Linked DNA regions of Homo sapiens: regions 1 and 3 are each linked to region 2. The links come from fine-mapping of genetic effects on gene expression. A gene starts in region 2. Each other region holds a variant in brackets. All regions are shown on one strand. Distances are between the middles of the regions. Region 1 has its middle 88 kb from the start of MIR548AU. Region 2 holds the start of PHF2 (PHD finger protein 2). Region 3 overlaps PHF2 (PHD finger protein 2).

The links. PIP is the estimated chance that this variant, and not a neighbour inherited with it, causes the effect. A credible set is the group of variants that fine-mapping cannot tell apart.
Region 1: its variant is the best candidate, but not a certain one, in a credible set for the expression of PHF2 in lung (TOPMed, PIP 0.83).
Region 3: its variant is the best candidate, but not a certain one, in a credible set for the expression of PHF2 in whole blood (INTERVAL, PIP 0.79).

What each region holds. Positions count from the first base shown.
Region 1 is chr9:93,681,167-93,685,309 of GRCh38, forward strand. No RefSeq gene overlaps it. Among named protein-coding and RNA genes, the nearest start is that of MIR548AU, 88 kb to the left of the region's middle. The variant G/A (reference allele first, on the strand shown) is at 2,355.
Region 2 is chr9:93,574,898-93,579,040 of GRCh38, forward strand. It overlaps PHF2 (PHD finger protein 2), which reads left to right and starts at 1,687. Exons shown (of 22, transcript NM_005392.4): 1 at 1,687-1,974. The coding sequence starts at 1,877. RefSeq lists enhancers at 1-589, 590-1,184, 866-1,145, 3,327-3,476 and silencers at 1,246-1,305, 1,416-1,715, 2,306-2,465.
Region 3 is chr9:93,628,794-93,632,936 of GRCh38, forward strand. It overlaps PHF2 (PHD finger protein 2), which reads left to right. Exons shown (of 22, transcript NM_005392.4): 2 at 1,177-1,262. Among named protein-coding and RNA genes, the nearest start is that of MIR548AU, 36 kb to the left of the region's middle. The variant T/C (reference allele first, on the strand shown) is at 1,740.

The DNA of each region.
Region 1 (4,143 bases), 110 kb after region 2:
CGCCCTGTGCTGCACTCGGGCCGGCCCAGTGTCTCGAGCCCAGCCCCCACTGAGTGCCAGGCAGCCTGTGAGCCAAGTGTCATGCAAGGATCCTGCCCAGGTGTGCGGCACACAGACCTGGACATGCATCTCTGGGTGTGCGCCTGCAGCCGGGAGGCCAGGGGCCCATGTGGCCCCAAGCATGCCCCTAGCTGTGGCTCTTCCCCTAACCTTGGTGTCGGTGCTGACTGCCCTATGACAGTGAAGTTGGGAGGGTGAGGTCTGGGAGGGAGCTGCCGACCAGCAGCGGACTTTGTGGGTCACGCCTCTGAGATTCAGGCCTGTCTGTCCCTGCAGCCTGCCCAGCTTGGCCTGAGCAAGTTCAGTGCGCAGTGCAGTGAACACACACAAGCAAACTGCCCCCGGTCCCGCCCTCCAAAGCTCGCTGGATTCCACAGTTGTTTACTGAGTGGCTACTGTGTGTCCGAGACTGTGTGGAGAACCTGCCCCAGACTTCACCATGACTGACAACCTGGGGCAGGTGTTATCATCAGCCAGTTCTGCCCAGGAGTCCACCGAGGTTCAGAAGAGGCACCCGCTGCTCACGGTAGAGCGGGACCCACACCTGCCGCCTGGACCACAGGATCACAGGACCACAGGACAGCGTGTGGGGGAGACATGCCTCCAGGTGGGAAGGGCAGGTCTCCAGGGGCGCCTGGAGCTGACCATAGAAAGTGATGTTTCTAGCAACATGAGCAGAGGTAGAGGCAGGCAGCAAGACCCTGGGGTTGTCAGACATGGGCCCTGTGGGCTGAACAGAAAGGAGAGTCTGCAGCGGCTCAGAGCAGGGCCCTGGGGCCACCGTCACAGTGGAGGGATGCGTCAGGCCCTTGGGGAGCCCCGCAGTTCGGGAGCAGGTGGAGTGAGCTCTCCAGGACTACAGCCTGCTGCTGGTTGGCCAGAGGCGAGGGACTCTTCCCCTGCCCCTGCCATGTGCCCATCATCTCCATGCCTGGTGGGGAGCTCAGAAACTCGGCCAGGTCAGTCTATTCTGCAGGACCCTGCCTATATATGTGCCCACATCCTTTCGCCCCGGCTGGACCCAGAGCCGGTCCCTGAACCTGCAGTTGGCAAAACAGGGTTCAATTTGCGAACCTTTGGGGCCATACCCAGAATAACCACCGGGGGGCAGGGCAGGGCCGGGAACAAGGAGGACAATTGTGTGAGGTTATTTAGTGCCTGGGGCTGGGGCGGGTGCTGGGACTTAAGGGCTAATGGCAGGCGTGATGGTAACTATGGGCCAAAACAACAACAACAACAAAAAAACAAGCATGCTGTGAGTGCTGGGAAGGAAGGCGACAGTAAAAATCAGCTCAGCTTAGTCATTGATGCACATGTGCTCTGTTACCTTGTTCATGCTTCACAGTCGCCCCCCAAGGGAGATCCCCTGAGCGTCTCTATTTTACTGATGAAGAAACTGAGGCACAGAGTCTCTCAGCTGCTAGAGCAGGAATTTACGTCCAAGCAGGTCAGCTCCAGGGCCTTTGGGCTTATAAGTGAGACCTGCAGAGAGACATTCTGCAGCCAGCAGCCAGGAGGCAGCTTGCAAGGCCTGCGGAAGGAGGGCTGTGGGTGTGGGGCAAGGGGCGGTGCAGGAGCAAAGGCCCTGAGGTGTATGGCTGCAGCGAGGGCCTGAGCCAGTGGAAGAGCAGGGTGTAGCTCGGAGCTCAGCTAAGGGGCACCAGCGCTGTCTCCACAGCGGCTCTCTCTTTACCACCCCTTTCCCCTAGATAGGCAGGTCTCTTTCCCCTGCCTGCCCCAGCCTAGCCTAGCCTGAGCTCTGTGCCCATCCCAGACTCTGCACAGCCCTGGGCAAGGAGCCTGATTTGTGGATGGTGACACTGAGGCAGGTCTTGTCAAAGACATATGGCTGCCAAGGGTCTCTGCCCTCCTTGTTCGCAGTATCAAGAGGCTGGAGGGTAGTGTGGAAGGGAGAGTTGAGAGGGCTTACGGTACAGGGTTAAAAAGAGAGAGAGAGATGTTGCTGATTTTAAAATCCAAGCTGTGTTCCAGTCTTCGCGAAAACAGTCTCCTTAATAATAATTCCCAGTGGTGACGGTGACATAAGTACTCAGACGGAAGGTCTCAGATATCCGGGTCCAATACCGCTGGTCTTGTCCAGTGACCCTGTGGCCAGTGTGGTCACAGTTCCTGAGCACCTACTGTGTGCTATGCAGGGCACTACAAGCTTTCCTCTGGCTGGCTGACCACTTAGCATGCTCCCTAAGCCCCGGCCCATGGAGGGAACAGGGCTGGGTCATGGGCTGGGCAGGCTTAGACAGTCTGGCCTGGGGGGCCTTTGAGCAGAGCCTTGA[G/A]AGCCTGAGAGAAGAGTGTAAGCAGAGGGGACAGCCTGTGCCAAGGCCCTCAGGCAGGAGCCAGCTTGCTGGGGAAGAGCCAGGAGGCAGTTAGGTGAGGAGAGGGCACTGAGAGCCAGCAGGGCCAGGGTTAGAGGGAGGCTTCATCCCCTCAAGCCCTTGGCAGGTCCTTGCCCAGCCTGGCTGTGTGGCCTTGGAGGACAGCCTCAGCCTCCTCATCTCCAGAGTGGGGGTGATGGCGCTGACCCACATAGAGTTGCTCCAGGGCCCACGCTTCCCTGTGTGCCCCCCACTTCCCAACAGCCCCTTGTGGAGCACTCTTCTACCCTTCTGCAAGCCCTGCTCAGAGGGTCTTGCTCACTGTGTGACCTTGGGCAGGTCACTTTCCTTCTCTGGGCCTCTTTTTTTTCCCTCTGCCTTGCTGACGGCAAGGCTGCCTCCACCCGGAGGGGCAGGGGAGGTTCCCACTGGAGCTGAGGCAGGGGAGAGGTGTCCTCACCCAGGCCTTGACTTCTGCCCTCTAGGCCTTATCGAGAGTGGTGATGGCCTGCAGCGCTGCCTTGGGCGACCAGGCCTGGCCCGAGAGCTTCCGTGGGTGGACCTGGCACTGAAGCACAGTAGGAGGTGCAGGGGAAACCATGTCCTGGACCTCAGGCCTGTACTGATGCTTAAACACTTACTGATTTCCAGTTTTCGGTTCTTTCTCACATTTTGCAGTACATTTTTTTCTTGGCCGCAACTTAAAGTTTTTGTCTGCAGAGCCCTGTGGCCAGAGGGACTGGCTGTGGTGACTGGGGTGCAAGGTGGGGTGCCCTCAGGGGCCCAGCTGGGCTGCGGATGCCTGATGGATGCCCCCTGGCAAGCCCCAGCTGCCCCATTGAGCCACCCATTGCCCTTGAACCCTCTTCCAGGCCGAGTCCCACCGTTGCCTCATCCAAACAACCCCAGCGATGCCACCTCGGTAGAAAAATGATGCTGTTCCATTAACATCTGACACGGATTTGCAGGCCCCAAACAGACGAGCGAGCTGTAAACACCCGGTGCTGGCTGGGCCCTCGCCCGGCCTCCAAGTAGGATCCTTGTCATTAATCGTCCTCCCGCCGGCCAGGCTGGGCCCTGGGCCCCACTGTCCAGCCAGTGCTATTCCAAAATCAGAATCCTCCTTGTCCCCTGCAAACTGCATTTACCAAACAATGGACTCGCCGGCTTCGCAGGCAGGAGCAGAAAGAGAGCGTGCACCCCACTTCTGGTGCTGATGTGGGTGGTGGAGGTCCTGGTGCTGCCTTTGCCCACTGTATGACCTGGGGCCTTGACTTCCTGCCTATAAAATACAGCAATACCCCTGGTTTCCTGAGGGTCTTGTGAGAATGAGAATCGAGGGCCTGGTGTGCCACGATTCCACCTGCCCGGTGTGCTCTTGGGGACAAGTCTCTCAGGCTGCCTGGTTGGGAAGGGTGGGCTGCCAAAGGGGCCGGCAGCTCCACAGAGCCCTCTTGTCAGCACGCCCTGCCTGGGAGCAGCCCACTGCGGTGCTGGGTGATTTCTGCTCATTGTGGCTGATTTAATAAGTGTGTGAGGCCACCTCCATGTTGTTACCTATATCTTTTTATCCAGAAGAGGAAGGATTTTGTCCATGTGTTGTCCAGGAGTACCATGTGTGTACACCAATGTGAGGTTTTGTCCACTTGTGAAAGGGAAATCTTACATAAATGTGCAGTGACTCACATATTTGGTAGAGGAAGCTTTGGTCTGCGACATGCCCAGGAGTACATTTGTATTTCCTTCCTTC
Region 2 (4,143 bases):
AGAGTTACTTCTTTCCCAGAACTTCAGTATGTAAAAAAAAAAAAAAAAAAAAAATTCCAGGCTTTCACCCAGGAGGAAGGGAACCAGTGACAACCGGAATTCAGGTAGGAAGGCCTATTGCAGGCCATCCTGGCCAGTCCAGAGGTGTGGGAGCTGGGGGTCTCCTGCTCTTTCCTCTCCCTCTATGGCCAGCTACTTCTCCCCCCGCCCCCTTCCCCAGTGCCCAGTGCTTTGGGCACTGCCCTGAGTCTGTATCCACGGGGTCACTTGTTGGGGGTGGGTGGCTGACTCTGAGGGTAGATTTTGGCTCAGTAGGAGGAAGGACCTTAATTGAGCCGCCTGCGGTGGAGCAAACGGCCCCTTGGCAGCTGCAGGTGGGCGGTGATGGTGAGGGGCTGAGGGGCTAAGGAGCCTTGTCATGGATGCTGCTAGGAGACTGAGCCAGGTTTCCTGTCCGGAGATTCTGGAATTCCGAGCAGGGGTGGCCCACATTTCCCAGCACGATGCGGATTTTGCTGAGGGAGGATGGGGAGAGAAAGAGGGTGAGGGAGGAAGGGCGGGCAGGGATGTGGCCCCTGCCCAGCGCGGATGCCCCAAGGATGCAGCGCTGGCGAGGCAGGGAAGTCCTCCTCTAGAACGCGTGCAAGTGACCCCTCAGAGCGCACCTCCGCTTCTCCTCCCCACCGTGGGGGCTCAGTTCCCTGGACACGGGGGCCAGGGTTCCCATACTCCTCGCCCCTTAGGTCACGGGCCTGGGGGGCTCAAATGCCAGGGAGCTCTCTCTTGACAGAGCTGACCAGCCCGGCCCCTTAGGTCACGGGCCTGGGGGGCTCAAATGCCAGGGAACAGAGCTGACCAGCCCGTGCCAGCGCACTCCCGGCCCGGGCTTCTGTCCTCTTCCTCTGGGGCTGAGCATCAGGGAAGTCCGCGGGATCCTGCGAGGGAGGCGGCAGTCCCCAGCCGAAAATGAGGGGAAAGAGGAAGTGGTGTCCCAACCAGAAACTCAGTGGGGAACGGAGGGAGGCAGCGCGGCCGAGGAGGAGGAACACCCCCACCGTGGTGGGGGTCAGAAGAAAGTTAGGGCCAAGTATTTGCTTGTCGGCCTTCTAGACTAGGAAGGCTCTCCTGCGGGCTCCACTCCCGCACCCCGCGTCTCTCCTTCTGCCTTGCCCGGGTTCCCCCAACTTATCTTATCCTCGGGGTCCCGCCCACCTTCTCCCCGGGGTCCCACCCCACTTTCAGTCTCAAGGCTCCCCCAGCTCACCTTCGCGCCCGCGGACCCCTGGGTCTACCTTCAGCCTTGGGGGCCCTTCTCGGCCTATCTTCCACCTTCGAGATCCCCCCACCCGCCTTCTCCCCCGGCAGGGTCCCCCCGGCCGTCTTCTCCCCCGGCAGGGTCCCCCAACCCACCTTCTCCCCCGCAGGGTTCCCCAGCCCGCCTTCCCGGCGGCGGGAGCGGCGGCCCAGGCCGGCGGGCGGAGGCGGCGCCACCCGGGGCGCTGACGTAGAGGCCGCTCGGCGGCCGGGGGTCCCTTCGGTGGGGCCGCGGCTCCCCGCCCGCCGCCCCCGCGCGTCCATTCCCTTTTGTGTCCCGCGCGCGGCCCGTCCCCCGCGCACACTAGCGCCCTGAGCCCCGCGGGCCGGCGGGCGGCTCCCGGCGCGGCCCCTCCAGCCAGCGCGCCCGGCATTGTGTGGACGCGCCTGGCCGGGAGCGCGCGCGGGGGCTGTCGTGCGCCCCCGTCCCCGTCCCCTCCCGGCCGCGGCGCCGCCTGCGCCCCGCCGCCCCCGCCGCCCCCGCGCGGCCCGGCCCCCGGCCCGGCCCGGACCGACCCGGGCAGCGCAGCGGCGGGGCCGAGCGGCGGCGCGGCGCGGCAACATGGCGACGGTGCCCGTGTACTGCGTCTGCCGGCTCCCCTACGACGTTACCCGCTTCATGATCGAGTGCGACGCCTGCAAGGACTGGTTCCACGGCAGGTGAGCGCGCGGCGGCTGCTCGGCTCGGCCCGGCCCGGCCCGGCCACCTTGCCCGACCGAGCCCCGCGCCCCCGGCTGCGCGCCCGCAGGCCCGGCTCGGGGACGGGCCGCCGCCGCCGCCGCCGCATTCCGGGCGCCCCGGTCGGGGCTGGGCCGTGCCGGGCCGCGCGCCCTTTTGTGCCCAGGGCGGGGGCGCCAAGCACGGGGCCCGCGCTGGGCGCCCCTGGCCGCCGCGCACAAAGCGAGGCCCGCGGGCCGGGAGGTGGGCTCGGGGCTCGGGGCGCGGGGAAGTTGGGGCTCCAGGCCCGGGCCGGGCCGCCTGTCAGCTGGGTCGCGGCGGCCGCAGAGGCCGGGCATCCGGAGGGAGGCCGAGGCCCGGAGCCCCCGCCGCCTCCCCCCTGCGAAGTTGCAGGAACTTTCCCCGCGCGGGCTCGGGGTTGGCCGGGCCGGGAGAAGCGGGCGCGCAGCCCGGCGCGGGTCCCGGGAGAGGCGCGAGTGGCGGGCTCCGACTCCGGCAGGGCTGGGGAGTCCGTGGGGGCTCCGGCGAGGTGGCAGCCGGCGCGCCCACCCTCCGCCGTGGCCGGCGAGCTCCCTTGGACCTTGTCCCCGAGGGCAGGACCCCTCCCGGACCCCCGCGGAGCAGCTAGACCCGGCAGGCCTGCAGGTCCGCGGGCAGGAGTGCGGTGACAGAATAGTGTCTGTGAGTTGGGTAAGGGGGGTTTGTTGTGGCTTTGCCACCTCCTCCCTGGCCTTCAGTTTTCCCCGTTTCTCTCCTCTCCGTTCCCGGCAGGAACGCCGGTTTTGACATGATCTTATGCTCCCTAAGGAAGATGGGGAGGGGGGAAGGAGGTAACGCTTGGAGACACTGAAAACCCCCGCCCTCTTGGCCCTTGCCGATGGCCATGACCTGGCCCCATGCCTAGGGCAGGTCCCTTCCCACCAAGAAGTAAATGGAGGAGGAGGAAGAGGAGGTGACAGTGTTGCCCAAACTGCTCCAACAGGTTCTCTTGCATCTGACTTTGCCTGTGGGATGTGTTTGGACCCGGGGCTGGCCAGGGCTGTATGCCCTCTGGGGCTCCAGTCCCAAACCACCGGCAGCAAGCAGCCGGGGGAAAGAGAGGGGTGTGTGGTGGTGGGTGGTCCGGGATTCTCCTTCCAGAGAGGAGATCCTCCTGCAGGTTCTAAGACTGGGTCTTCAAGACTGGTCAGTGGTGCTTAAGAGTGGGCTGTGGCCCCAAGTCCAGTCCTGCCAGTTTACATGTGGGGACCTGGGTGGCTGGGATGTGACAGGGCCTGCTATGTCTGTCAGCCCCAGTCCTGAGTCCTACCTCCCTGCTGTTAGAAGGGCCTGGGACTCTGTGGGGTGGGGATGCCCACGGAAATCTGGGCTGCCTTCCTGGGTATGCCCAGGGCTGTGGAAGCCCCTTAGAGCAAGGGAGACTGAGTGTGAACACCGGGCTCTGCCCAGAACAGGGCTGACATGCACACCCTCAACTGGCAGCCGTTGAGAAGTTCATGGCCGGGCCAAAGTGAGTGAGAGCCTCTAAGGCTCCTCATATCCAGGGATGCTGAGCTGCTGGCCCTGAAAAGCCCTGAAAGTGGTGGGGCCTCTGCCTTCTCCCCCATCTCCACCGGAGCCCTGACCTGGCGAGCGCAGTCACTCTGCTACAGAACCTTCTGGGCACCTGTGTCAGCTCCTGGCTGCTGCCCACACTCGGGGCCCAGAGTAGGGAGAGTGAGAGAACGCGAGAAGACCTTTGTCTCGCTGCTTAGGGGACCCTCTGGGAAGGGAAGGCTAGTTCTGAACTAGACTTCGAGGCCAAGGGAAAAACTCCAGGAATGAGGGGCAGGCAGGCGACAGGGGCTGAGAGCTGGCCTGAGAGCTGGTTGGTGTCATTTGCTGTATTGGCCCATGCAAAAAATCCCCAAAAGGGGGATGTCTGGGGAGGCTCTAGCTCCTTTTTTTCTTATTTGAGGTCTCTGATTGAATCCAATACAGGCAGTTGATCAGCACAGATTTATTCTCACCTATTTGGGGTGGCTGTGGGGTCTGAAAGAAGCTGTGCTTTCCCTCGGCCATGAAAGTCATTTTCTCCTGCATCTAACCAAGAGTCATCTGCCAAAGTGAACCCTACAGGGAGAAAGCCTCTGGGTGTGCCTGCTCCCCAA
Region 3 (4,143 bases), 54 kb after region 2:
TTCTTCTTGTGGGAGTTGTCTGGACCTGTGCCCTGCCCATTATCCACTGTGTTCTTATTTAGTCTTGGGGGCTTCTTTACATGTTACAGATGCCCATTCTCACGTCACTTTTTTTTTGTTTGAGATGGAGTCTCATTCTGTTGCCCAGGCTGGAGTGCAGTGGTGCAATCTCGGCTCACTGCAACCTCTGCCTTCCAGGCTCAAACAATACTCCCACCTCAGCCTCCCGAATAGCTGGGATTACAGGTGTGTGCCACTGTGCTCCGGCTAATTTTTTTTGTATTTTTATTACAGACAGGGTTTCACCATGTTGGCCAGGCTGATCTCGAACTCCTGACCTCAAGTGATCCGCCCACCTCGGCCTCTCAAAGTGCTGGGATTACAGACATGAGCCACCGTGCCTGGCCTCATGTCACTTTTAACTAAAAAAAGTATCAGAATAAAACAAAGCATTTCCATTTTGCTGGGTTAGCTTCTGTAGAAGTTTATTGATGTCTTAGGTTGTGTCCTTTGATACTCTTTGTGTTCATTCCTCAAATGGCTTAAGGCCTGTAGCCCGACCATCTGCATAGGAGGTGGCTCTCTCTTGTTCTAAGTCTCCAAGCAGGTTTGCAAGGGGTCTGGAGGAACTCCAGGGAGGGAATGAGGAAAGAGTGGTCATGATGTCTGGAGTCCTGGACATGTCCTAAGGCCAGGCTGGTAGGCCTCTTCTTGGCCCCCATGAGGATGAGCTGGATGGGTGGCTATGGTATGGCCCACAGGAGGGGCTCTGAGCTGCCTCTGGTGTTTTCTGCCCCCTCAGGTTACCCCTGGTGAAGTGATGGGGACAGCCTGGCTCTGAGAACCCCTCTTCCTTCCCTGCCCCCTGGGTGACGGGGCATTGGTGACCCTCACCCAGGCAGGCTTGGTAGATGGCCTATTCATTGGGTCCTCATGGTGGGGCATATCCAGACGCTGTATCTAGGTCCAGGCTGCAGAGGCCTTTCCAGGAGGACATCTCTGCAGCTCTTTCCCTCCACCCTGCTTTCCTAGTAGAACACTGTCCCTGCACAGCTGTGCTCCATCTGGCCCAGGTTCCCAGACAATGAGCAGGGATTCTCCCTAGAGCTTCGCAGATGGAAAGTGCTTGAGGGGGTGCTGAATGCCTAGGTAATGGTCTATTTCGTCTCGTTTCAGCTGTGTTGGGGTGGAAGAGGAGGAGGCGCCCGACATCGACATATACCACTGCCCAAACTGTGAGAAAACCCATGGGAAGTCCACCTGTAAGTACCGCAGCCCAAGCGGCCATCTCTTGCGGAAGAGAGCAGCATCCACCCTGCCTGGGCTGCGTGGAGGGTGAGGTCTCTGCTGGGCCTGGGCCCTGGGTTGCTGGGGGCAAAACGCCCTGAGTAGTGTCTAGGCCTGGGGACCCTGCCAGCCTAGCTTACTGTCCCCTGTAGCCTCACTAGGCCCACTGTAGCCCCTCCTGATCAGCTCCCGCTGGCAGAGGCAGCTGTGCAAAGACTCAAAGGGCCTTCTGAGGCCTAGCGAGAGGCCAGGCCAGCCTGAGTTAGGGGGACACGGACTTGGGGACCTGGATAAATGGTGATGCGGGGGTTTTCTAGGGGCCCCCAGCCTAGCCCGGCCCAGCCAGCCACTGCTACACGGGGGGCCCAGCCTGTCTGTTTTCTGGGCACGTGCATTGTTGGTGGGCTCTGTCCTCCCCTCCTTTTCCAGCCCCGCCTCATGCCACCCACCTC[T/C]TCCTCTGCAGAGAATCTTGGAGGGCCCTTGCCTTTCCCACACAACCTGCTGTTTGTGTGTCCTAAGGGCTGAGGCTTCGTTTTCTTCTTGGCCCTTTCAGGTGTGCTGGGTCCTGGGATACAGGCTTGGTTCACCCTGTGCAGGTTCAGCCAGGTGAGCTGGAGGTTATATGAGCCTTGAGCTCCAAGCCTCAGCCCTGGTTGCAGAGGGGGAGCTGTGTGGTGGTCTGCAAGGACTCGGGAGGGGTGTGGCCTGTAGACAGGACAGATGGTATGGATATGGGTGTGCGTGTGTTAATGTGGCCTCTGGTTTCCACTTCACTGGAGGGTCTTGGGTGCTCACAGAATCTGCAGGCTGGACATGGGCCCTGGCTGGGTCAGCTGATCACATCTCTGCTGACCTGAGCCCTGGACAAGGTGGGGCAGGAAATGCATCTGGCTCCAGGTCACAGCCAGTCTGAGTCACTCCCCTTCAAAGGGAGACCCCTCCCAGTGCCCAGTTGCAAGCTGAAGCACCAGACCCCCGGACCCCTGTGGGATGAGTCCTATGGAATCAGTAGGGGCAGAGGGAGGATGCGGGCAATAGGTGGAAGGGGCTCCAGCACCCCTGTTCTGTGAGCTGAGGCTGGGTCGAGGGAGCCTTGGAGGCCTGGCCTGGCAGCTGGTGATGCTGGGTCTCACTACTCTGAGGACCTGGCTGCTCTTTCTTGGCCTCTCCCAAGGCCTGAATGCTTTTCTCCTGTCTATTGCTGGACAGCGGTGGGGGCTGCATGTGTTTCAGGTCTCGACCCTATCCCCAGCACAGCCTCAACAAATATGCAAGCGGGTGATGAGGAGAAGCTAGCAGCTAGCAGCTCTTCCTGAACTTTCAGGCTGATAGTTTGCCTGTGGGGAGGTTCTGGGATTCCTAAATTGCCTTCTTACTCCTGGTCCCCAGTAGTTGGCTGCATTTATGCTCAGAATGCATCTGCCTACGGCAAGCTCATTAACCTATCATCTGGTTATTGCTCAAAAACAGATAAAGGGTAGGAAGGTTCAGCCCAGCGGGGCATCCTCATGCTTCTGGCACCTCAATGAGCCCACCCAGAAAGCTCAGGGCCAAGCTGTCTTTACGACAGGAATGACACAAACAGGGCTGAGCTTCCAGTGGGGACCTGGGGCTGCCCCATGGGGCCTAGGGGGCAGGTGTCAGAGCAGAGTAGGGTTGGAGCCAGGATACCCCAGGAGGTGCTTTCCTGGGGGGTAGGACCCTCTCAGGTCCTACCTGAGTTGGGCTTGGGAGGATGCTGGGGTGGCGTTGCTTTTGTGTGGGAGGTACACGTGTGCATCACTTGAGAAGAGGCTTTCAGACTGGTAGAAAAGAAAGTGTCAGAAACCCCTGGGCCAGGGGCCTCTTCTGATAGTCAGCATACATTTCAAGGGGTCCTTGCTTGGGGGCTCTTGCATGAGTTGGGGCTGGGGTAGAGCAATGGTGTGGTGCTGGGGCTGGGCAGGTTTCACATATTGGTGAGCACACTGTTTTGATTTCTCTAATGTCCCCAGACATCCCCAGAAACAGCCCACCTGCCATGGGAGCCCTGTGTGCCTGCCTCACCCAGACCCTGCCCCTGTCCCTGCAGGGAGTTTGGGCAGAGGCCTGGTGTCCCAACCTGCCCTTGATTGCAGCTAAAACCTCAGTGCAGGCTCCCCTTCCTGTCTCCTACGGCCAGCTGCCCAGGGAGAGACATTCTAGACTAGCAGACAGTGCTGAGGTTGCAGATGGTGGGACCCCCAGCCCCTGCCTGGCTGTACACATGTGTGTGTGCATGTACATGTATGCTTACATATTTGTGCATGTGTATGTGTGTGTGCATGTGCTTGTGTGTATGTCATACTCTGTTCAGGCTGCCGTAACAAAATACCACAGACTGGAGGGCTTAAGTAATAGAAAATTTATTTCTTACAGTTCTGGAGGCTGGAAGTCCAAGATCAAGGTGCTGGCTGATTCAGTGTGTGGTGAGGGCCTGCTTCTGGTTCATAGACAGTGCCCTCTTGCCATGTCCTCATATGGTGGAAGGAAGGAGGCAGCTTTCTGGGGTCTCTTTTATAAGGACACTAATCCCATTCAGGAGGACTTTACCCTCATGACCTCATAACCTCCCAAAGGCCCCACCTCATAAAATCATCACCTTAGGGGTCAGGATTTCAACAGATAAATTTTGGTGGGATGGATATTCAGTCCACAGCTGTATGTATGTGTGTGCATGCACACATCTGTGTGCTGAATGTGCTATATAAATTCTCTGAAGCAGATTTTCAGTTGTTACTGAAGTATGTGTGCTCCATCAGGGACAAAGGTACACAGTTCTAGCACCTTCCACCAGTGTGCATGCTCAGATTTGAAGTGAGTGTACACTGTGCCCAG